Regions from separate parts of the Homo sapiens genome. Here region 1 is linked to region 2. The links come from fine-mapping of genetic effects on gene expression. A gene starts in region 2. The other region holds a variant in brackets. All regions are shown on one strand. Distances are from middle to middle.

Region 1 (5,365 bases), 130 kb before region 2:
CACCTGCACTTTCCTGTTGCATCACCTGAGTTCTCTGACAGTCACTGGGAATACCAGATCCCACACCCTGGGGTTGTATTTGAGTTGGGATATGGTGAGAGGAGCCAAGAGTCTGGGCTCCAGGCTCAAGAAAAAGACCACTTAGGCCTATACAGAGACGATTGCCATGGCAACACAAATAACAGAGGGTCCAGGAGACAAATGAGGCTGAGAGAATCTGAAGAGGAGGATAAGATGGTCTGATACACAATGCACTTTCATATGCCATTTACTAAAACCCAGAGAGGAGGGGGAACTACATTTCCAGCCTTAAAAGCTTAGCATTTCTGCCATGATTTCTTAGAAAATGCATGCTGGATTCTACCAGAAGGGACAAAGCATCTGGAGCAGATACTATTAGTTGCCTACCCTAAAATCCATCCTGCCCTTCTCTGTAATAAAACTTCCAACTCTTAGGGTAGCACATGGCCACCCAAAATTAAGGTTTAGTCAATGAGATATAAGCAGAGGTTGTACGGCAGCATCCAGAAAACCTCTTTAAAAGATTAGATGGATGATTTCCCCTTCTCCACTTTTAAAAAAAATTCTGGAATGTAGATGCATTCATTGGAACTCTAGCCATCACTTTGGACCGTGAGAAATAGGGCTGGTGGAATAATGAGCTAAAAAGAACATGAGTCCTCAATGACTTCGTGAAGCCACCATATCAGCCTTGTGATCTATGTTTTATTTACACAGAGAGAAAAATAATCTTCCATATTTTATGTTTTTGTTATTTTGATTTCTAACACATCCAGCTGAACCTAGTCATTCTAATAATATCTTTTAGCATCTTGCTTGGAATCAAAATCAAATTTTGCAGTGATTCCACTTTCTTTACATTTTTGAAAATGGCAATGACATTTACCTGTCTCCAGATTTCTGGGACATCCCTGCTTTCCATAATTCTTCAAAGATGTTTATTGATTTTTCAGCAATCTCTTTTACAATATTCATGTCAGGCTCGGCTTTCAATTAATTCAGATTAATTGTTTACCAACATCCAATCTAATTAACTAGTTCGCTCCCCTGATGCAATCTTTTCACTCATCCTACTTTACTCTCGCCTCTTACCATTGTTTTATTCTCCATGTCAATTATTACATAGACAATAGGGTGAATTAAAGATGGCTAGAAATTATTTGTCACTCTCCCCTCAAAAGGTGGAGTTTATTTCCCCTCCCCTTGAATCAGGGATGGCTCCGTGGCTGCTTACCAACAGAAGGCAGCAGAAATAGTACTGAGCCAATTCTTTGCCTACCCTGTAAGAGGACTGGGCAGCTTCCACTTTTGTTTCCTCTCTCTTCAAATAGTCACACTTAAGACACTCCCTTTTGGAAGCCATCTGCCATGTTAGTGAGCCATTGTGATGCCCAGCCCGGTCAAGCCCCTAGTTGATTACAGCCCAGTCAATATCACATGAAGCAGAAGAATTACTCAGCTGAGTCCAGTCAACCCTGAAAATCATGAGAAATAATAAATGGTTATTATTTTGAAGCTACTAAATTTGGGGGTAGTTTGTTACACAGAAATAGATAATTTCTGTGCAGTAATAATTTTATAAATGATATAGTAGTTGGCAATTGAAGCGGAACTTTTTTAATGACAAAATTCCCAGAAATGCTAGTTATTTCAGGGAGGAAAAAACTTTATTGAGGATGTGATATTTCATTATTTCATGCATTCATTCACTCACATTTATTATCTCTGCCAGGTGTCTGTTAAGTGCTGAATTACCACAAGGCACATTTCTTGATCTTAAGGAGCTCACAGAGTAGTAGAATTTGAACTAAATGGGAACAATTCAAATCATTTTACATATTTCTGGACTATTTTTTTGGAAGAGTCATATAGACTGAAAATTCCCCACACTGAATTTGACCAAAGAACACCTATTTCTGTCCATGTATTTCTGTGGAACAATTCTTGAAGGCCATTTCAGATAGAATCCACTGTAGTCAAGCCCTGAAATTCTGTGCCGCTGAGGGTTCAAAAGAGGTTAAAAACTGGCTTACAAGAAATGCTATTGCCCTTAACCCAGAGCAATAGTGCTAGCTTCTGAGGGTGTGGTCAAAGCAGACGTCTTAACATTTCTGAGGGATTCAGCTTTTTTTCTTCCAATAATGATCAGTTTATATAATAAGGGCACAAGCCTCCCCACCTCCCATCCTACACCTTCCCACCTCAGAATAGGCAGTCTGAAACTGTCTCAGTGAGGAATTTAGGCTACAGCTGGAGAGACTCAGTAAATCTTCACAGTTCTATAGAAACAGGGAGACAGGAAGGGAAAGAAACATTGCAGAAACTTCCAGGAGAATTATGTGAAGAAGTCCTGCCAGGACAATACAGCTGGGCAACATCTTGCCTTTCTTTTTTTCTATGGAAACTCTGCTCAAAACACACACACACACACACACACACACACACACACACACACACACATCATACACACAACAAAAACACACACTCACTAAGCAGAATTTGCCAGTTTTGCTAGCCAGGGTTAGTTTTGCAATCAGTGATAAACCTCAGCAGGACAAGCTTCTTCGCGGCTATATTGGAGTAACTCAGGGCAACCAAAACAGATGGCCAAAATACTCTTCAGAAAGCAAACACGGTTTCTGTTGCCAGGCCAAGTGGAACCCCCAGGAAGTAAGGTTTCAGAGAGGGAAATTTTGGAGGTTCTTCTTCAAGAATGGAAAATGCGAATTTCACTTATTGTTCGACTACACTTCTTAGGAAACTTCCATGTCAGAAGAGGGATACTAAGATGTAAAGAACCCAGTCCTTGCCTTCTATACGAGAAAAGGTTATTCTCTTTCTGTGCCTCCTTGGCCCTTACATAGTAACTTCTCCTAACACTTCCTCAGAAGCGGTAGAAGGGGTAGACAGAAGCTTTCACCCCACACTCCCCTCCTCCATGAGACATTTCATGAATACAGACAGAAGTCTGACATCCATTCATCTTTCCTCAGGTGGCAAAAATGTCAGTGAGCAGAAATGCCCCCCCTCTTCATCTGACTTTCTTGATCCAGCCGGCCTATGGAAGGAGCTCCTAGGCCTTGCATTCTTTTCCCCATTATGAGCACATCAGGGCGGGACTTCCTTGCCTTGCAAAAGAGACCTTCCGTTTTCTACTTTTCCCTCCCTTGACTTGGGCAATTAAAGCCCAAAATAGGAGACAGATTG[A/G]TGTGGGCCTTAGTTCTGATGGGAGTCCCTCTTTCTTGCTTCTTTTATCGCCATGAGAAGAACAGACCATGATTAAGCCAATAATTCAAGAAGGATGAGAGACATATGAAGAAACCCTCAACTCACCCTACAGTTGGAGCTACCCAGCTGAGTCTAGCTGAAATCAGTAAAGCTGCCCCCACCAACCTGCAGACATGTGGAAACTTAAAGCTTATTATCATTTGCCACTGAGATTTTTGTGGTTGGTTGCAACAATAGCTAGTTGATACAGAAACTGGTGATTACAGGTAATTAAAAGGCTGAACTCTGGATTCCAATTGCCTGGGTTCAATGGCAAACTCTCCAAACCAAAAGCTGATAAACTCAAACAAGTTACTCTCACTCTGTGTGCTCTGTTTGTATATCAATAAACTGGGATAAGACTGTTTTCTTTCCTCAGAGGATTGTTGTGAAAACTAGATTTCTCAATACACTCAAAGTATGTGAAGCAATACCTGGCACACAGTAAACATTCAATAAATGTTTTCCGGCATTATTTTATCTAACAAAGCTGATGCTGTATTTTTGCACATGAATACAAATTTTTGAATCAACTTCCAAACTTCCAAACTTCCACCACTCTGCAGGGATTTTTATTGGGATTGCATTAAATCTATAGATCAGAGGGAATTGGCATCTTAATATTGAGTCTTCCAATCCATAAATGTGCTATATCACTCCATTTATTTAGGTCTTTAGCTTTTCTCAGCAATGTTTTCTAATGTTCAGCATTAAAATCTTGCACATATTTTGTTACATTTATACCTAAATATTTCACGTTTTTGACAATATTGTAAATGATATTGTTTATTTCAATTTCCAATTTTTTATTGTTAGGACCTAATTAAACTAAAGAGCTTCTGCATGGCAAGGGAAACTATCAACAGAATAAACAGACAACCTACAGAATGGGAGAAAATTTTTGCAAATTATGCATCTGACAAAAGTCTAATATCCAGCATCTATAAGGAACTTAAACAAATTTACAAGAAAAAAGCACACAACCTCGTTAAAAAGCAGGCAAAGGACATAAACAGACACTTCTCAAAAGAAGACATACATGCAGCCGACAAACATGAAAAAAAAGCTCAACGTCACTGATCGTTAGAAAAATGCAAATCAGGCTGGGCACGGTGGCTCACGCCTGTAATCCCAGCACTTTGGGAGGCCGAGGCGGGCAGATCACGAAGTCAGGAGATCGAGACCACTGTGAAACCACGTCTCTACTAAAAAAATATATATATATACAAAAAATTAGCCGGACGCAGTGGTGGGCGCCTGTAGTCCCAGCTACTCTGGAGGCTGAGGCAGGAGAATGGCGTGAACCCGGGAGGCAGAGCTTGCAGTGAGCTGAGATCGCGCCACTGCACTCCAGCCAGGGTGACAGAGCGAGACTTCGTCTCAAAAAAAAAAAAAAAAAAGAAAAGAAAAATGCAAATCAAAATCACAATGAAATACCATCTCACACCAGTCAGAAAGACTATTATTAAAAAGTCAAAAGATAACAGATGCTGGTGAGGCTGCAGAGAAAAGGGATCACTTATACACTGCTGGTGGGAGTGTAAATTAGCTCAACCATTCTGGAAAGCAGTGTGGCAATTCCTCAAAGGGCTAAAAACAGAACTACCATTTGACCCAGCAACCCCATTACCAGGTGTATACCCAAAATAATATAAATTGTTCTACATAAAGACACATGCACACATATGTTCACTGTGGCACTATTCACAATAGCAAAGACATGGAATCAACCTAAATGCCCATCAATAATAGACTGGATAAAGAAAATATGGTACCTATACACCATGGAATACTATACAGTCATTAAAAAAGAATGAGATCATGTCTTCTGCGGGAACATGGATGGAGCTGGAGGCCATCATCCTTAGCAAACTAACACAGGAACAGAAAACCGAATACCACACGTTCTCACTTGTAAGTGGGAGCTAAATTGTGAGAACACATGGACACATAGAGGAGAAGAATGCACACTGGGGCCTACTTGGCGAAGAAGGGTAGAGGGTAAGAGGAGGGAGAGGAGCAGAAAAAATAATGAATGGCTACTAGGCTTAGTACCTGGTTGATGAAATATTCTGTG
Region 2 (5,374 bases):
CTCCCAAAGTGCTGGGATTACAGGGGTGAGCCACCGCACCCGGCCACTTTAACCCATTATTAACAGTTCATGTAATGCTTAATTCACTGAAACGTGACCACCGCTCACATTACTTTTACAGATCAGGTAACTCTGTTTTAAAAGTTATTCCTCTGGTTCTCAAGGTTAACAGAGATGAATAAAAGTTGATACTGAAAATGGCATACAATTTGCTTTATTTTAAAATATTCATTCTTTGCGTGGGGGTAATTAGCACTGAACAGTGTTAGCCACATAACGGTCTCTCTTCAACTATGTATGTTTTTACTAATGCAAGAATGTTAACTGAAATAATTGATCAAAGGGTAGGGGGAGCTAATTTACTTTAAGCCAACCGAATTAACGAACTTCTTTTCGCTATAAGGAGTGGTCATGTGACTCTGCAATGTAAATGAATAAAGCATTTTGTACATAAATGCAAAATAGTACACAACTCCTTATCCTCCAAACTTCTGCAAGCACGTTTTACCGTCGGGAATTACACAGAGAAGGTGCTGCCAAATTAGCTGAGTTTGGGCCCAGGTTGGATTTGCAACACCTGAATATAGCATGTGAAGGGAAGTGACAAAGGCAAGAGCCAAGTGGCCCCATTCGCCTTCTTCCCCAGACCACGTTGAGTCTGCCCAGATGTTGTCCAACCTGAGCGGTCCCCCTGAGTCCAAAGCTTCGGGAGAAGGCGCGCAACGAGGACTTCCTGCCGCCTTCTCAGGCTCCCTAAACAGTTGGAGCCTCCCTAAATGGCCACGAGGTTCCCCGGCCTCGAGCCTGTGCCAAGGGGCGCGCTGGCGAAGGCAGCAGAAAGAGCCCAACACCTGCCTCTCGCAGGCCCAGCGAGAAACCTCGCACCGCCCGCGCAGACCTGGCCGGCTGGGTTTGGGGCTCTAATCTCATCCTCACACCTGCTTAGGGAGGCAGGCGAGGGTTCTCCAGGTGTCTGGGTCCCGGGAGGATGAAAGGAAGCTGTTAATAGGCGTGCGCTGGGAGCGCAGCAGCGGACGCGCCGTGGTCGCTGGGCGTGGGAAGACCGGGATGCCTGGGCCACGGCCTGAGGGTTTGAAGGGACAGGCCGGCTCGGAGATCTCCCTTTGCTTTTTCTCTTCCCCTCGCTGGGCGACTAGCCAGGGGCTGCAGTAGCTTTCCACTCAGCCCTGCGACTTTTACACATTTCTGCCCGGGCGCACTTAGCGCGCAGCGGCTCCTGGCGCAGTGAACACAGGGTCGAGTCCTCTTGGGACGCACCCCGGACGCCCAGGCCTTCCCCCCAAAGCTCTCGCCGTCCTGTGGGGCTCCGTCGCCGTCGGGGCATTGGGTTTCCTTAATCCAGGGCTTCCCCATCTTGGGCAGGAGGAGGAGTCAGAACCCCTCCCCTCCCTCTGTCCCCCTCCTCCTCCTCCTCCGCCCACGGCCAGCCTGATTTTTAAATCTAATCTCTTATTTAAAGTCAACAGAGGAGCAGGAACCCCGCGCTCCTGCCTACAAGATATTTTTAAATAATTCTCCAACCTCTACCGAGAGGGACAGCCTTAAGGAACCTCCCTGTTTTCCCCTCTTGAAGATTTAGGTAGCAGACGTGGGGCGGGGGGCAGCGGTTCCAGGGTCGCAGCTGAAGGCCGAGAGCTCTGCGCACTTGGGGAGGAGAATTTGGGCTGGGGGCGGTGCGGGGGAAGCGACTAATACAAGAGGAATTAATCCCAAATAGCCACAATTTAACAAAAGAGCGTCAACTTGAAAAGACTTGAATCAAACCGGGAGCCGAGCCCCCAGGAGGCTCCTAGGCACGAAGCCTCCCTTGCCTCCGTCGGGGGAGATGGGGGGCAGGTGATTTCCCAGCATGTGACCCTGAAGAGGGAGGGTCTTGGGCCATTACGGGATGCGCCCAGAGACTAGGCGCGTCCGCACGCACGCACCCCCGGAGGAGACAAGCCGAAAAGACACTCCGCACCCCTCCCCGGGTCCTTGGCTCGGGACTGCGCCCCCGGTACTTTGCCCACCTCCCTCCCCAGCTGGGCGGGGACCACTGTTCTCCCTCATTCCCAAGGAGCCTCCGACCTCCTTGGACCCTTGGCGGTGAAAGGCTCCCAGCCTTCGCCCCTCCTGCCTTTCCCATTTCTTTCCCCCGCCTCCCGCCGACGCCCCCAGATCTGTTGGGCTCGCCCTTCCTGAAAGTAGGCGAGGCCCAGAAGCTGAGGTTGGGGCGCAGAAGGAGGGGGGTGGGAAGAGGGAGGAGCGGAGCGCAGCGGCCGGGGGCGTGTCTTCCACTAGCCCAGCCCCTGGGTGCGCGCGGCGGTGGTGGCGGCGGCCGAGCCTCGCTTTGAGAGACAGGTATCGCTTAGGCGCCATGTTGTGAGCGGAAGTGGGGGAGCGCGCGGCGGTCGCTGTTCTGCTGGGAGCGGGCGCGGGAACCGGCGGGGGGGGCGGAGCCGTAGTCCCGGCGGCGGAAGGAGGAGAGGAAGAAAGGGGCGAGACCCGGTGCCCAGCGGAGGCGCGAGGCTCTCGCTCAGCGCGCGGGCGTCTCTGGCCAGGCGCGCGGCTTTCGGGCGGTCGGCGTCGGCGTCGAGCCCTCTCTGGGGCCGCCGCCGCTGCTGCTGCTGCTGCCGCTGCCGCTGCCGCTGCCGCCGCCGCCGCCGCCGCCGCCGCTGCCGTGGGGCTCGGGCGGCGACGGAGCGGGGCCGGCCGTGGGGCGGGCGGGGAGGGAGGAGGCGGTGAAGGCGGCGGGCCGGGGGGGAAGATGCCGCTGGCGCAGCTGGCGGACCCGTGGCAGAAGATGGCTGTGGAGAGCCCGTCCGACAGCGCTGAGGTGAGTGCAGCAGGGCGGCCGGGGCCGGCGCATCTCCTCCTCGCGCCCCCGCCGGCTCGCTTCGCTCCCCGGAGCTGGCCACTCGGCCCGTTCTGATCCCGCTCGCGTCTTTCCCCCGGGCTCAGGGTTTTGGTTTGGGTTGTTGGGGTGGGTCTATTGGCCGGTCTGTCTGTTCCTTCCATCCTCACCCTCACCTCCTTCCCTCGCTCGGGGGGCTGCCAGTGTGGTGGCGCGTGGGGTTTGGAGTGGGCGCTGGGGCTTTGCAAGAAGCCAATTTTAATCAACTTTGCGTGGGGGAAGCGGGAGGCGGAGCGGGGGCCGGCGGGGAGTTGGGAAGTTTGGCCCAGCCGGGTCGGGGGCTTTCCCGGACCTTGGCGACTTTGGGAGATGAGGGAGGGGTAGGGATCGGGTTCACCGGGGAGCAGGGACTCTCGAGTCCAGCCGAGGGAGGGGCTGCTGCGGGGAGACCGGCGCGCGGGGCACGGGCGGCGGCGACCTGTGGGGGTTTCGGGTAGGGGGTGCAGGGTTTTGCCTCCCCCTCGTCTGCCGCAGCGGTTTCTGCTGCTGCAAAGAAGAAAGCGGAAGCCTAAGGTCCCCTACCCCCTCCGTTTCTGAGGTCGCAGAGCTAGACCCCCGTCCCTGTGAGTTTAACTTGAGTTTCCTGTCCATGGAGGTGAGAGGGTGATATTCAAGGAGATCAGCGGCCGCCGTAAAAGGCTTTCTGGTTTTCCTCGCCCGGGATCTGGTGACCGTCCCTGAGTCACCCATCCTAGTGCCCAAAACCCAAACAATATACCCAAACAGGGCAAAACAGAATTTCCCCGGGCGCATCACTACACCGAGCTTTCCTGAACCGCCCCTATCCCAGAACAACTCGGGGTCTGCGAAAATAATCCAGACAAGACCCGTTCCAAGGTATCACCGCTCCTCTCCGGAGTGGAAAATCAATTCCTGATGGTGGCGCGTCTGTGATTCTTCCTTCTTGACTTTTTGCTGCCTTCTCTCCCCGCAGCGGACTTTAGGGGATTACAGGATGATAGGCTGCGTGTGTGTAATAGTTACTGAGTGAGTGACCCCATTTCTGGAAAGCATGACTGAAACGCGGGGGTGGAACGGGGCAGGCTCTGATGAGTGGTGTGCTTGGCGGCAGCCGCTGCCCTGCCGGCCTCCGCAGTGTGAGAAGTAGATAGGGTTACTGGTTACGTCAGTAAAACCGAGGCTCAGTTTAATCTTGAGATGCGGGACACTTGCATTCTCCGGTATAATGGAGAGGGCGGGGGATCAGTTCAAATCGCTTTTCACTTTTTCCCCCAGTCACCTCCGCTGCTGTATAACAATTTTGCTTGTTCTCCTTAACGCACGCAGAGTTGTAATAGTGCTTATGATTGGTGCTTAGTATTTTGCGACTTGGATCATACTTGTAAAACCTGAACTAAATGCTGCTCTTCAATGGAAAAGACATTGATATATGTTGAAAGAAAAGGAAAGAAAGAAAGGAAATCATGTTTTTAAGACTGGCAGAATCACAAGAACTTTATTTAAAATTGTTAACCAGACTAATACTATAAATATTTTATTAAAAAGCCAAATTTATGATGTTTAATAATCCTTTAGATGGGTAGTGTGAAAAACAGTATGCAAGAGCTCGTCATATTTTTCCCCAGAAAATTTTTTGCATTAAATAATATAGCTAAAAGGTTAATAAAATGTTCGCAAAGTACTGAACTTGTGGAAAGAAATTAAATTTGCTTTGAGCCTGACTTTTACATACAAACATTAACAATTGCAACTCAAGATCAGTCCACATTTCTGCTTGGCATGTATCAGTGTGATAGGAAAACAATATCGTTTAGAATTCCACCTTATCCTTTTTCTATCTGGAATGCATTTGGATAAGGAAGGACAAAACATATTTATTTAGCACCAACTGTATGCCAGGTACTGTGCTACATTACTATTTCATTTTATCCTTCCTGTGACCCAGCAGGGTAGGATTATGGTCCCCATTGTTATAGATTAGGAAACCAAATCTCAGAATTTAAAAGGTACAAAGATGATAAATAGTAAATGGCAGAGCCATAATTCAAAGCCAGGTGGATACAATTCATGTGCTTCGTTTTATATCAGGGTAGCTGTTCCAAATCTTTTGTGGAAAAATTCGGGGTATAAATAAGCCAGTAGTTAGAGGTCATCTATTTTCCAGAAACAAATAGAGTATTATAAGAGGTCTCATTTGGTAAAGCCTTGTTATTTCAGTTACTATCATGTTTTCCAGAACTTGACAGATAGGATTCCACAATTTGCTGTTTTCAAAGAATTTTCTTGCTATCCTGGCATAAAGTATGTCAAACAGAGCCAGTGTTGCCAAGATTTATTAAAATTAAATTCTAACAAATTGCCTTTAGATATTTAATTTCCTTTGCTTGTTCAGCTATTTCAAGTAAATTACTTCTGATACAATTTGGAAATATTGAAGACAGTGAGGGAAAGGTTGAAAAGTTCCACTCAGAGGTCTAATATTTTCACTATTATACCGTT

The links. PIP is the estimated chance that this variant, and not a neighbour inherited with it, causes the effect.
Region 1: its variant is fine-mapped to the expression of RPS6KA3 in whole blood (TOPMed, PIP above 0.99).

Annotation. Positions count from the first base shown.
Region 1 is chrX:20,392,430-20,397,794 of GRCh38, reverse strand. No RefSeq gene overlaps it. Among named protein-coding and RNA genes, the nearest start is that of RPS6KA3, 130 kb to the right of the region's middle. The variant A/G (reference allele first, on the strand shown) is at 3,229.
Region 2 is chrX:20,264,026-20,269,399 of GRCh38, reverse strand. RPS6KA3 (ribosomal protein S6 kinase A3) reads left to right here and starts at 2,491. Exons shown (of 22, transcript NM_004586.3): 1 at 2,491-2,836. The coding sequence starts at 2,768. RefSeq lists silencers at 1,715-2,009, 2,431-2,650, 2,771-3,030 and an enhancer at 4,211-4,260.